Homo sapiens: one gene and its partner. The protein of the gene in region 2 interacts with the protein of the main gene of each other region in a pairwise test. Each region holds a gene or a part of one and is shown on either strand. Other genes may lie near its edges.

What was found. The genes of interacting proteins can lie anywhere in the genome.
Region 1: the proteins of SHISA5 (region 2) and TVP23B interact in binary tests that used the Homo sapiens proteins (3 or more experiments, as listed by UniProt).

The regions. Positions count from the first base shown.
Region 1 is NC_000017.11:18,784,183-18,791,207, forward strand, and holds part of TVP23B (Golgi apparatus membrane protein TVP23 homolog B), read left to right. Parts: intron 1-4,852; exon of another isoform or gene 4,853-4,869; intron 4,870-5,170; coding exon 5,171-5,253; intron 5,254-6,713; coding exon 6,714-6,858; intron 6,859-7,025.
Region 2 is NC_000003.12:48,501,167-48,508,450, forward strand, and holds the start of SHISA5 (protein shisa-5 isoform a precursor), read right to left. Parts: upstream 3,009-7,284; 5' UTR 2,929-3,008; coding exon 2,853-2,928; exon of another isoform or gene 2,555-2,852; intron 2,028-2,554; exon of another isoform or gene 1,929-2,027; intron 128-1,928; coding exon 1-127. UniProt on the Homo sapiens protein: Can induce apoptosis in a caspase-dependent manner and plays a role in p53/TP53-dependent apoptosis.

The sequences.
Region 1 (7,025 bases), on a different chromosome or scaffold from region 2:
ACATGCTCTTTCACTGGTCACTCCATTCTTTTTCCTTTAAAGACTTGTATCATATATGCTTGTCTTTTAATTCTTCCAGTCTCTCTTGTATTCATTCTAGTCAGTCTCTCTTCCCCTCTCCCAACCATACTGGAACTGCTCTTACTGAGTTCCCTGATGACCTGTTAAAAATACAGTGGTCATGGCTGGGTGCAGGGCTCATGGCTGTAATCCCAGCACTTTGGGAGGCCAGGATGGGTGGATCATGAGGTCAAGAGATGGAGACCATCCTGGCCAACATGGTGAAACCCCGTCTCTACTAAAAATACAAAAATTACCTGGGGGTGGTGGCATGTGCCTGTGGTCTCAGCTACTCGGGAGGCTGAGGCTGACGCAGGGGAGTCGCTTGAACCCGGGAGGTGGAGGTTGCAGTGAGCCAAGATCACGCCATTGCACTCCAGCCTGGCGACAGAGCGAGACTCCGTCTCAAAAAAAAGAAAAAAAATACAGTGGTCTCTCTTTGGTTTTCATCTTACTTATGAGCAGCATTTGACACAGATGATGGATCCTCCTCCTGGAGGCACTTTGTTTGGTTTCCAGGACACTACCCCCTCCTGGCTCACCTTATGTTCCTTGGTACTTCTTTTTCAGTCCCCACAGCCTATTCCTTCTTATCTTTGTGATCTCTAATTATTGGAATGCTAGGAGTCTGTCTTAGCCATCTTTATCTTTTTAGTTGTTCAGGACAAAAACTTTGGAATCTTCCTTGATTCCTTTTATTTACCCTTCCTCCACCTCCCCAGTCAGTCCATCAGCAAATCCTGTCAGCTCTCCCTTAAAATGTACTTGGAATCTATTTTTCATCACCTCCACTGCATCCATCTTAGACCAAGCCATTACTTCTTGGCCTCGTGATTAAAGTAGTTTCCTAACCAGTCTCCTAGCGTTGTGCTTTTGTCCCTCCTTCTTCTCCCCTCCCCCTCCAGATTTTTACTACAGTAGCCAGAATTCTCTTTCTAACAGGTGAGTCAGAACATGCAGTCTTACACTTAAAACACTCCAATGGATCTCCCTTTCAACGCTTTTTGGTTTTAGCATCTTAAAATGTCATTTAGCATCTTAAAATGTCCAAAATCAAACTGCTGATTTTGCCCCGAAATCTTTTGTGTCCGTGGTCTTCCCCATCTTAGTAAATGTAACTCCAGGAGTGCAGAGCTATTTGTCTTTTTTTTTTTTTTTTTTAAATCTGTACCACTTACAGCAGTACCTGGCACTTGGTAGGCACTCAGTATTTACTGAATAAATGAGAAGAAATGAGTCTTTCAAAGAGCAGGGTAAGAGAATAGTGTTCTAGGTAATATGAACCATAAGTGCAAAAGAACCTGACGGGGCCCAAGTTTGGCATGTTTAAGGAACTGAAAAGAAGGCCAGCCTGGGCATGGTGGCTCATGCCTCTAATCGTAGCACTTTGGGAGGCTAAGGCAGGAGAATTGCTTGAGCCCGGGAGTTTGAGACTAGCCTGGGCAACATAGCGAGACCCTATTTCTGCAAGAAATTAAAATATTAGATATGGTGGCTTGCAGTACTCAGGAGGCTGAGATGTAGGACCTGCAGTAGTGACCCCTGATTGCTCCACTGCACTCCAGCCTGGGCGAGAGCCAGACCCTGTGTCAAAAAAAAAAAATGGCCAGTCTGGGCAGGAGCTTAGGTACTGTATAAATTTCCTGTTGCTACTGCGGCAGTGAAGTCATATGTACTGTTGTAAAGTTCTGGTGGTCAGAAGTCCAGAATGAGGCTCAAGGGGTTAAACATCAAGGTGTGGGTAGGGGTTCTGGAGAATCAGTTTCCTTGCCTGATGCAGCTTCTAAACACCTGGGATCCCTTCCCCATCTTAATGCCATGAGCACAGCCTCTTCAAATCTCTGTCTCTCATCTCTACTTTGCTTGTTTCATCACCTTCTCTCACTGACCCTCCTTTGTTTCCCTTGTAAGGACCATTGTGATCACGTCATCTGACCAGCCTGGGTAATCCAGGATGATCTCTTGACCTCAAGATCCTTAACTTAATCTCATCTGTGAAATTCTTTTTGCCAAGTAAATTTACATATTCACAGGTTCCAGAGATTAGAACCTAAACATTTTTGGGAGGGGTGAGGAGGTATTCAGCCTACCACAGTTAATGAAGAGTGAGTGGCCTGAGATAAGGTCTTAGAGATTGGCAGGGACCAGATCATGATAGGTCATGATAGGGAGTCTGTTTTTCAGTCATAGTGCTGAGAGGTTTCAGTAGGGGAATGATAGGATTTGATGTGAAAAAGTCTCCCTGGCCGCTGGATGGCGATTAGACTGTTGGGATCGAGAGCAGAAGGCCTCAGCTTTTTATTCATAACATCATACGGTGGATCTCAATCTTGCTGTACGTTATGATCACACCTCAAAGCAATTATATCTGAACCACTGAGGGCTGGACCCAAGTATCAGCCTTTTTTTGTTTGTTTGTTTGTTTTTTAAGAAAAAGCATTCTAATTGTAGCCAGGGTTGAGAACCACTAGTCTCATAGATCTGAATCCATTTTACCTTTTCAGCCTTAGCTCAGTAGGAGCTTCTCGCATCCATCACTTACTGCATGAGCTACTTGACCATTTCTTAGACAAACTTCCTGTATTCCCACCTGTGCCTTTCAAAATATACCTAGTCTAGGGAGGCCTACGCGGACTGTCAGGGCCCAGCTGACAAACTCTCCTCCAGAAAGCTTCTCCAGTGCCCTGTAGTAGGAATGATTTGCTTCCTTCCCTGGCTCCCATTTGCACTTAGATTTCTCAGCCCTGATCACAGTCAGCTGTATATTATCGTCTCCTTTGCTTATTTACTCATGCCTTCAACAAATACTGTACCACTTGGCTGAATGCTCTGCTAGACACTAGGATTTACTACAATGCAAAGACAGTCTTGGTTGGGCGTGGTGGCTCACACCTATAATCCCAGCACTATGGGAGGGTGAGGTGGGCGGATCCCTTGAGGTCAGGAGTTTGAAACCAGCCTGGCCAACGTGGTGAGACTCTGTCTCTACTAAAAATACAAAAATTAGCCAGGCTAATTAGCCGAGACACACTCCTGTAATCCCAGTTACTCAGGAGGCTGAGGCACTAGAATCTAGCTTGAACCCAGGAGGTGGAGGTTGCAGTAAGCTGAGACCATACCACTGTACTCCAGCCTGGGCGACAGAGCAAGACTCTGTCTCAAAAAAAAAAAAAAAAACCTTGTCTTCTAGGTCCTCCAGCAGCTTAATCTATATGGAGGTAGGAGCGGGTAGATGTGCAATAAGAATACTCTGAGATGATTGTTCAAATGGAGATTCGTCCAAGTGCTGTGGGAACATGGGGATTTCAGAGACAGGTTTTCAGCTATTTCAGTATTTGAGCTAAAAAACTTGAAGGATGATTTGGTATTTGGTGGTGAGCAGGGCATGAGGAAGGGAAGAGTTTTCTGAGACAACATGTGAAAGGCAGGAGATGGGAGAGAGATTGTAGTGTTCTTAGAGACCATGTAGTAACAGTATTGCTTCAGTGCTCAACAGTGCTCAATGAAGACAGTGTCAGAAGCAAGTAGGGGGCATTAGATTCTGTGATCTTCTATGCTTTATGTGAAGGAGTTAAATTTTATCCTATACTTGTAGGGATGCCATTGAAAAATTTGAGCAGTAGAGTGACATGGTGTGATTTCCATATTGGGAGGATTGCTCTGGGTAATGTAAAGGAGAGGCTGGAATAGAGAGGGATAAAGGCAGGGAGGCTGGTGAGTGCCACTAGGAGAGGAACAGGATCAGGTTTGTTGTAGTTGAGGGGAATTGCAGTGAATTGAGGCGTGAACCACTCTTAGAAGCCTAAGGTTATGGGGCCGGGCATGGTGGCTCACGCCTGTAATCCCAGCAATGGGAGGCCGAGGCGGCTGGATCACAAGGTCATGAAATCTCCTGGTTAACACGGTGAAACCTGTCTCTACAAAAAAAAATACAAAAAATTAGCCAGGCATGGTGGCACGCGCCTGTAGTCCCAGCTACTTGGGAAGGTGAGGCAGGAGAATCACTTGAACCCAGGAGGCAGAGGTTGCAGTGAGTTGAGGCCACGCCACTGCACTCCAGCCTGAGCGACAGAGCAAGACTCCATCTCAAAAAAAAAAAAAAAAAAAGCCTAAGGTTGTAAAAGGAAGCAATGCTTTGGGAAGGTAGAGGATTGAAGGGGAGATTCAGGATCAGGGTTCTTAAAAAAATCTTTTTTTGCCTAATAAGTGGCCTTGAAGAAGTTTATATGCATATGCTGATTAGAAAGATTCAATAGAGGCCGGGCGTGGTGGCTCATGCCTGTAATCCCAGCACTTTGGGAGGCTGAGGCGGACAGATCACCTGAGGTCAGGAGTTCAAGACCAGCCTGGCCAACATGGTGAAACCCCGTCTCAACTAAAAATACGAAAATTAGCTGGGTGTGGTGGCACACGCCTGTAATCCCAACAACTTGGAAGGCTGAAGCAGGAGAATCGTTTGAACCCGGGAGGCGGAGGTTGCAGTGAGCCAAGATCGTGCCATTGCAGTCCAGCCTGGGTGATGAGCAAAACTCCATTTCAACAACAACAAAAAAGAAAGATCCAATAGATAGACTTGAAGATAGAAGAAAGTGTAAATACAGGGGAAAATGATGAAACAAATCCCCGAGGAGGCATGAAAAGAAGTTATTCTGAGCACAAATAATTGGTTTAGCCTTGGATAAGAAGAGGAGGAGTTGTGAGAAGGGGTCATGGAACTAAGGATGCAGTCAGATGATTTTGTGAAGGAGCCAGAAACCTTGAGATTATCCCCAGTAGCCTCGGCTTGCTCTGTGACTTGGGAGAGAACAGGTGAGGAGGACAGGTGTTAAGTTGTAGTAGCCTCATCTGCACCCTAGAGTTTTCTCAGATGGTGCAGCCTAGGGGCAGGGATGGAGGAGCTGAGACTTCGATTATTCTCTGGGTTTTTTGCCAGATGATTTGAGGAGGCGGGTGGAGGATCTGCATGTGTCCTTTTCCTAGGTTTTGAATTCCTGATGCTGTAACCACATTATTTTATCTTCTATTTTGATGAGTATGCAGCTTTGCATTGCAGTGGCTGTGTAAACACTGAATTTTGTTTTGCTTCTTGACCATTTATTTTTCCTACCAGGATAGTAATGATGACACTGAAGATGTTTCACTGTTTGATGCGGAAGAGGAGACGACTAATAGACCAAGAAAAGCCAAAATCAGGTAGGAGGAGAGAAGTTGCATGAGCTGTGTTAGTGTCCAGTGCTGTTCTGTATGTATGTCAGTGCTAGCTGATGGGAGTCAAGGCAGAGTTGTTTCAATGTGCTTGTGAATACTGCATGTTGCTAATTTGACGTTTAGTGTACGACAAAGATGACATTTCAGATTTTCTTGTGAATAATTGGCATACTTAATACTGAGTTTTAAAATCAGCAAATCCAATTATTTGAACACCTGTGTTTTTAATTCTGTGCTATTTTCCAAGAATGTACCATTTCTTTATATAGTTTCTATAGATACATTACATTTTGATTTATTGTGCACATTTCAAAATCACATAACATTTCTATTCTAAATTTAATTCTCTCTAAAGAAATTCACTTACTGAAAGCAAATTCTACTTGAACCCTGCTAAAATGCTGTCTTTTACTTTTCTTTCATCTTTCATGCCAGTCACAAAAGACCACATATTGTATGATTTCATTTATATGAAATGTCCAGAATAGGCAAATCTGTAGAGACAGAAGATAGATTAGCTGTTGCTAGAAGCTGAGGGGTTTGAAGGTAAATGGGGAATGACTGCCAGTGGGTACAAAGATTCTGTCTGGGGTAATGAAAAGTTGTAAAATTGGAGTGATGGTTGTACAAATCTGTGAATGTACTAAAAACCATTAGATTGTTTACCTTAAATAAGTAAATTGTATGATATGTGAATTATATCTCAAAAAAGCTATTAAAAAACAAGAAACAGGCTGGGCACGATGGCTCATGCCTGTAATCCCAGCACTTTGGGAGGCCGAGGCAGGTGGATCACGAGGTCAGGAGATTGAGATCATCCTGGCTAACATGGTGAAACCCCATCTCTACTAAAAATACAAAAAATTAGCCGGGCGTGGTGGCAGGCGCCTGTAGTCCCAGCTACTTGGGAGGCTGAGGCAGGACAATGGCGTGAACCCAGGAGGTGAAGTTTGCAGTGAGCCGAGATTGTGCCACCAAACTCCAGCCTGGGCGACGGAGCGAGACTCCGTCTCAAAAAAAAAAAAAAAAGAAAAGAAAGAAAGAAACAAACTACCTGATAACTTTGTCTTAATGTCTGAGTGATTTCTGAGGGCTAAGGAATTCTTTTGGTGTGATTTGAAAATAGGATTCAAATTCTAAGATACAGTTTCCTTATTTCTCCAAGAGAGATAAAATTCTTTATTATCTATTTTGTGAAAGTTTATATTCAATGAGGTGTTAAAGTCATCTGTGCATAGTGTATTTTCTGTAACTACAGGGCCTAGTCAAATAGTGGGGCTTAAGAAAAAGAGAGCTAGGAGGTTTGCTTCATCCTACTAAAGTCACCTCTTTTATTTTGACAAAACTCTTCACAGTTACACGATGGCTAAAACATTTTTCTCTACATTTGCTAGTACCTGTAGTAAAATGTAATTGCATTTCTTTCATTGTGTTTTGGTTTTCAGACATCCAGTAGCATCGTTTTTCCACTTATTCTTTCGAGTCAGTGCAATCATCGTCTATCTTCTCTGTGGGTTGCTCAGCAGCAGCTTTATTACCTGTATGGTGACAATTATCTTGTTGTTGTCGTGTGACTTTTGGGCAGTGAAGGTAATTTTGATTGTTTTTATTTTAAAATTATATTTAATATGAAAATGATGTATAAAAATATGAGTTAGCATTTTGCATTATTGTTAATCTTTTGTTACTTCAAACCTCATCTGTGTTGAAGTGCTAGATATATCAAATTGCATGTAGTTTTTTTTTTTTTTTTTTTT
Region 2 (7,284 bases):
CTCCACACAAATTTCTTCAGCACGTCAGAGCAGCAGTATTGGTCATCACAGGTACCACAGCAGAAATCTGGACAGGACTCGGGGAAGAGGCTGAGTCCACGGGAAGCCATACACACCTCACCACGTGCTGGAGAGGAGAAACACATCTGTTCACCTGTGCCCACGGGCCAGGCCCCAGCAGACACAGCGCCCTCCCTGGCACAGCCACCAGACCACACACACACACACATGCTGCACCGTCTCTGAGCCACCCTAGCCACAGGCCACCTTCTGACCCCTGGCCACTGCTCCCCCTCAGCCTTGCCCTATCCCACGGGCCACAACAGAGCTGCCCTAACTGGGCTCCCTCTCTCCCTCACCAGTGCACTGGCCTCCTGATAGGAGGGTGAACTTTCTCAATGTGAGTCTGATGGGGCCACACCCTGCTCTCAAACCTCCCCTAATTCCCACTGCTTCAGGATCAAGGCCCGAGTTTCCAAGCAGGGTCTAAACTGCAGAGTCCTGAAGATCACTCCAGCTCTCCAACCTGTCCACACTCCGCTCACATTCTTGCCTGGTTCCTATCTCCTGCCTTTCAACTCTACTCATCCTTCAAGGCCCTACTCCAGGTGGCCTCCTCCAGAAGCTGCCCAGGCGAGAAGTCACACAGCTCAACACCTGCAGGGGACCAGACACTGGACTGTCCCTTTCTTTCTTTTTTTTTTTTTTTTTTGAGACAGAGTCTCACTCTGTTGCCCAGGCTGGAGTGCAGTGGTGCGATCTCAGCTCACTGCAATCTCTGCCTCCCAGATCCAAGCAATTTTCCTGCCTCAGCTTCCCGAGTAGCTGGGATTACAGGTGCCTGCCACCAGGCCCAGCTAATTTTTTGTATTTTTTAGTACAGACAGAGTTTCGCCATGTTGGCCAGGCTGGTCTTGAACTCCTGACCTCAGGTGATCCACCCATCTTGGCCTCCAAAGTGCTGAAATTACAGGCATGAGCCACCGCACCCCAGCCAGACTGTCTAGTTCTTAATCCTCGTTCACTCTCTCCCTCACTCAACCACAGCAACCTCAGCCCCTGCTGGGCACCACAACTGCAGGGGCCTGGCTCTCACAGACCACCCCATAACCATGATGGCAGGCTAGATCCTGGTCAGAAATTGTCACACCCACCATACCAGCGTTCATAAAGCACTTAGCCCCGCGCTGGGCCTGCAGCAGGTGTCCAGGAAATGTCTGTGCCTTCCAGGAGTTTGAGACCAGCCTGGGCAACAGGGCTCCAAGGCAGTGGCACCATCTGTAGCCCTGGAGCCATCACAAGACTCTCAGCACAGAGTTGGGATCTACTGACATCCTTACAAGTCTCAATAAACGAGGTCATGCTGAGGGGATCTGGCTGACAACAAATGTGGAAAATAACCCAGGTTTTTGGATGACCACAAGGTTTACAAACCTCCAGGAAGATGCTACAGTCAAATGTTCCCATGTATCCTCAGGCTACATTAGCAGAGACCTGTGCCCACTAACAGGAAGGAACAGTACCGGATTCTGCCAGGGCAGACTCCAAAGAGAATACCTAGTCCAGCAAGGCCCACAAGTCCGCAGTAGGCAGGGGACAGGTCTGATGATAGCCCTGAGGCATAACTACATCGGCCTGGAAACAGTCTGCCATAGCACGTGGCCTCTGGAGACCCAGCCAGGCCAGGCACCTGGCCATGTGCAGCATCTGGTGCCCGGGCCTGATCAGGACACCACACACCCCGAGGCTGTCAGTAGAGTGAAGCCCAGAGACAGAGACACCAAGTGACCTCCTTGGGAAGAGGGAACTTTAGTGGGGAGTTGGGGGGAACTGCACTTCTTGGCAGCTCCAGGCAGAACCCTGCTCTGGGCAAAGCCATGGAGCAGAGGATTGGACCATTGACAAGCCCAGTTTGGCCAGCTGCCCACCTGAAAGCTGGTATCATCAGCATGGCCCGTGCCTGGTGGCTCAGGTGAACCCATATGCAGCAAGGTCTTCACAGCCCAATCTGAGCCTCTGAGCTAGGGCTGAAGACACACCGGTGAGGCTGTTTAGGCTGAGTCCATGGCACAAATGCTCTCTGACCCCCAGACCTCACTGAATCAGTGACCGACCCTCCTACAGGCTCACTCCAGGAGTGGGCGGATTCTGGGCACAAGTCTCCCCTTTCTCATTTCTCTAGCCCAGGTCCTCTGGATTCATCCCAGCCCCCAGGAAATACAGCCTTCCCCTCCACGAAGCCACCCACCCCAAAAGGGTCTTTGGCTTCCCATGGGTGGGCAGGGGATTGTTCCAATTCCTAACCCTTTAAAGGACCCGCCCCCAGCCAGCCTTCCAGACTCTGTGAATCACCTATCTGCAACCAACACACACAGTGGTGTCTCCACCCCAGAGGCCAGCCTCAGCGCCGGGCTCTACAGGAACACAAGGGCCAACGGAGGCAGCGGTGGGGGCTCCCAGACATTAAACAGAGGCAAAGAGGGAAGGCCTCTGATGGAGGGGCCAGCTCGCCCTGCAGCCACCCGCCAGACTAAAGCCAGGCAGGGAACCCTACCCTAGCCTCTGGGGACTCCATCCCCTGGAACATGGGCGGGAGGGCAGACCCCTCCCCACCGTTCCAGGACAGACAAAGGTGGCAGCTGCCTGGTGTCTAGGCAGGGTTGTTCAGGCAAGGAGGGTGCTGGGGTGGAGGAGGGGTCCGCAGTCGTGGGGGTTCGCTGACGGCCTCGGGGCAATCAGGGGTCAGTGGGGGGCATAGTGGGGCTGGTGCTGCCCGGCTCGTTGGAGAGGCAGCGCGGGGAAGTGTCTGCCCGGTCCCAGGGCAGGACGGGCCGCCCCCACCCCCGGCTCACCACCCGGAGGCGGCGTTAGCAGCAGCAGCAACAGCAACGGCAACAGGATCCGCGGCGCGGGGACCGGCGCAGTCATGGCTGGGCGGGCGGACGGGCGGACGGACGCGAGCGCCGGGCGCAGTGCCGCCACAGCCTCAGTGATCCGCGCGGCCGCCCCTCTCCCTCGCCCCGCCCCGCCCCGGCCCGGCTGGTTCCCGGAACCTCTGTCCGGGGGAGCAGGAGGAGGAGGAGGGAGGAGGAGGGAGGAGGGAGGAGGGAGGAAGGTGGAAGGAGGAGGAAGGAAGGAAGCGGACGACTTCCCAGCCTCGGGGCCAGCTTCGCGCCCGGGGTCTGCGCGAAAACTTGGTACCGGTTCCCAGACTCGGACAGGCGCCGGGCGACGCACGGAGTTTCCTTCTGCTCACCGGATGCATGGGGGGCGGCGGCGGCCCCCAGCTCTCAGGCCTGGAGGGCGTCCCCGGGAATATGCACCCTGACACTGAGCGCCTACTGTGTGGGCTGGGGGACAGCCACAGCCATCCCTCCCAGCCGCAGTCCCGGCGGATCCTCACTTGCCCGAGGGCTACGTGAGGACTAGGTGAGGCGGTGCGAGGACAGTGCCCAGCGCAGACCTTGGCACTCAGTAGACACTCCACAAATGCCGGTTCCCTTCTACAGGCCCAGTCGCCAGCTCAGAGGACACTCGATCTCCTGCCCCCTGGGACTGACACCATCATCCCAAGGTGATCCCCAGCCCCAGCCCTGGCAGGCTCAGCGCTGGCGCAGTGGGCCAGGACTGAGCTAGAAACTGGCAGCTCCCAGGGCACACAGCCAGGCCAACTTCCCACACAGGGCTCCGCCCCCTCACTTCGGGGCAGGGGTCCAGGCAGAATCAGGGATGTTGAGTCATTCTTCCTTTTATGCCCAGAGTTCCTGACCCACCCCCACTCTGCACCTAGCACAATCAGAACATTTCACTCAAGACAGAAAACGTGAAATGTCACACTAGTGGGGCACCCAGGCTGGGTTGTGCACCCTGTGTGCCACCATATATTTCTCACCTAAAGGTGGGGGCATCGCTGTGGACAAAGAGAAACCCAAGGGGACAATCTGGGATGTTCCCAGTAGTTTCCCAGGCTAGGGTGTTAGAACAGGGAGAGGAAGGCCTGGGTCTCCAATAAGCCCCCATCACCTCCTGGCCAAGAAGGGCTTAAGACTCACCGTGCTCAATACACATGTGGGGGGCAGGGATATGACAGTTCCCAGGCAGGATGCCCTCTGGGAGGGTCTTAGTGAGGGACTGGAGTCACATCCTCCCTGACAGCCCAGCCTGGTTATCCCACCTCTGCCTCCTGAGCGCCACTCTCCAAAGCTGGGTGCAGCCTAGGTCCCCCTTCTGCAGAATGGCCAGTGTATGCTCCTCATGTCCAGCTCTAGAGCCATCCTGTGTTCCACACCCTGGGTGCCCAGCCCTCTGCCTCCCTAAAGGTTGCTCATTCCACTCTGCACCATCCACAAGCTTGGTTTCTTGTTCCTTGGTTTTCCAGTCCCTGCCCCCCAGCCAAGCTCCTAAGAGTTGTTCTAAGCCTGGGCAACATAAGGAGACCCCATATCTACAGAAAATTTTAAAATTAGCTGGGTATGGTAGCAAGCACCTGTGGTCTCAGCTACTTGGGAGGCTGAGGTGGGAGGATCATTTGAGCCCAGGAGATGAAGGTTGCAGTTATGATTGTGCCACTGCACTCCAGTCTGGGCAACAGAGCAAGACCCTGTCTCAAAAATAGAAAAACAAGGCCTGGTGCAGTGGCTCACACCTGTAATCCCAGCACTTTGGGAGGCAGAGGCAGGCAGATCACCTGAGGTTGGGAGTTTGAGACCAGCCTGACCAACATCTCCATGTTGGATAGACATGGACCAACATCTCCATGTTCAGTAGAGCCCCGTCTCTACTAAAAATACAAAATTAGCCAGGTGTGGTGGTGCATGCCTGTAATACCAGCCACTCAGGAGGCTGAGGCAGGAGAATCGCTTGAACTCGGGAGGCAGAGGTTGTGGTGAGCCAAGATCGCGCCATTGCACTCCAACCTGGGTGACAGAGCAAGACTCCATCTCGAAAAAAAAAAATGAAAAAAAAAAGAATTGTCCTTTCCCACCTCCTATGCTTGCCTTTGGCTTCTCTACTCTGCTGCCCCCAACCCCAGATCCTTTAGGGGCCTCTCACCTGGCCTCTTCCTCCCTACTTTTTTGGTCTTTGGCTCTCCCATACCCTCTTATCTGCCCACAGCTCATGGTTGAGCTTGGTGGGTGTTTTGGGCTCCACCCAGGGCTGTGCATGGGCAGGAGTGAGTGGAGGCTAGGATCACCCCAGTGGCTTGGAAATCGCAACCATGCATCTCACAGGCATGTGCCCATGTGTGCAGGCATTTTCTGTGGGTCTAAGGGAGGAGACCACCCCTCATATTGTCTTATGCCCCATTTCTGCCTCCAAAGAAAGAAAAAGTAAAAACTAAAAGGCAGAAATGAAATCCACAAGCAGACAGCCCGGCGCCACACCCTGGGTCTGGTAGTTAAAGATCGACCCCTGACCTAATCAGTTATGTTATCTATAGATTACAGACATTGTATAGAAAAGCACTGTGAAAATCCCTATCCTGTTTTGTTCTGACCTAATTACTGGTGCATGCAGCCCCCAGTCACGTACCCCCTGCTTGCTCAATCGATCACGACCCTCTCACGAGCACCCTCTTAAAAGGGACAGGAATTGCTCACTCGGGGGACTCTGCTCTTGAGACAGGAGTCTTGCCGATGCCCCCGGCCAAATAAACCCCTTCCTTCTTTAACTCGGTGTCTGAGGAGTTTTGTCTCTGCAGCTCAGGCTTGCAAAGCCTGGAAATACAAGTTGCCTGGGGAAAGTGACCCCTCCAAGGCAGAAACCAAACTTGGCCCAGATGCTGTACCAAGGCTAGGACTTGGCCCAGATGCTGTACCAAAGCTAGGTGGCTCCCCAAACCTTCCTACAGCTCTGTAAACAGCAATTTTTTTTTTTTTTTTTGAGACAAGGTCTCACTGTCACCCAGGCTGGAGTGCAGTCACGGCTCACTGCGGCCCCAATTTCCCCAGGAAACTGGGGTGATCCTCCCACCTCAACCTTTGGAGTAACTGGGACCACAGATGCACACCACCACGCCCAGCTAATTTTTGTATTTTTTGTAGAAGTAGGGTTTTTGCCATGTTTCCCAGGCTGGTCTCGAACTCCTGGGCTCAAGCAATCTGCCCGCCTCAGCCTCCCAAAGTGCAACAGCACTTTTATCAAACTCTCCTCAAATACCCAGTTTGTTAAGAATGACTGTGTTCTGCTGGGACCTTGGTTACAGTTTGTAGGTGAGAACTCTGCATCAGGCTGGTGGAGCAAAGCAACACCCACTGATGCTTGTAAAGCCCAGGGTGAGAGTAACCAGGTGAGAATGAGGCCATCAGCCCAGCCCCAGGACTGACTGCAGGACCAGATCGGTGAGTTCTACAGTGGAACGCTTGCTCAAGGATCCTTGCCATTCTTCTTCATTCAGCACCTGGTCCCCTTTCCTCCACATCAGAGGAGGAACACGCTAGATATTATCTTTTTCAGATTCCTTTGCCCCAGGGCAAGAGCTTTTGCCCAGCCCCAACCAATCAGATGTAGCCTCCCTGGAGTCAGTCAGGGGTACTGGCCACCAGCTTTGATGGAGGGCTGCAGCAGTCCTGGCAGAAACATGAGTCTGCACCTGTGGGGAGGGCTGTGTGAGTCACAAAGGCCCCTGCTTCCCCCTCGTGGCAGGAGCAGTGGCATGCTCACCAGGCCAAAGTAGCACTGTGGTTTGGGCTGGAGACGATACTGCTTCGACTTGGAACCTTTCTTTCCAGCCGCCTTGTTGGCTCTGAGGGCTCCACAGTTGCTTTTCATAAATTGGGTTTCTGATTAAGTTGGGCAGAGTCAGTTTCCTCCAACTGACAGAGAAGTTCTCACCAGGGCCGGGCACCGTGGTGACTCATGCCTGTAATACCAGCACTTTGGGAGGCAGAGGTAGGCAGATACCTCTTGAGCGCGGAGTTTGAGACTAGCCTGGGCAACATGACAAAACCCCGTCTCTACAAAAAATACAAAAATTAGCTGGGCATGGTGATGCGTGCCTGTATTCCCAGCTACAAGGGAGGATTGCTTGAGCCCAGGAGGCAGAGGTTACAGTGAGCTAAGATTGCACTACTGCACTCCAGACTGGGCAACAGAGCAAGACTCTGTCTCAAAAAAAAAAAACCTAAAAAAAAAAAGAAAACATCTGGACAAGGTGGCTCAAGCCTGTAATCCCAGCACTTTGGGAGGCCGAGGCGGGTGGATAACCTGAGGTCAGGAGTTCAAGACTAGCCTGGCCAACATGGCGAAACTCCATCTCTACTAAACATACAAAAAAAATTAGCC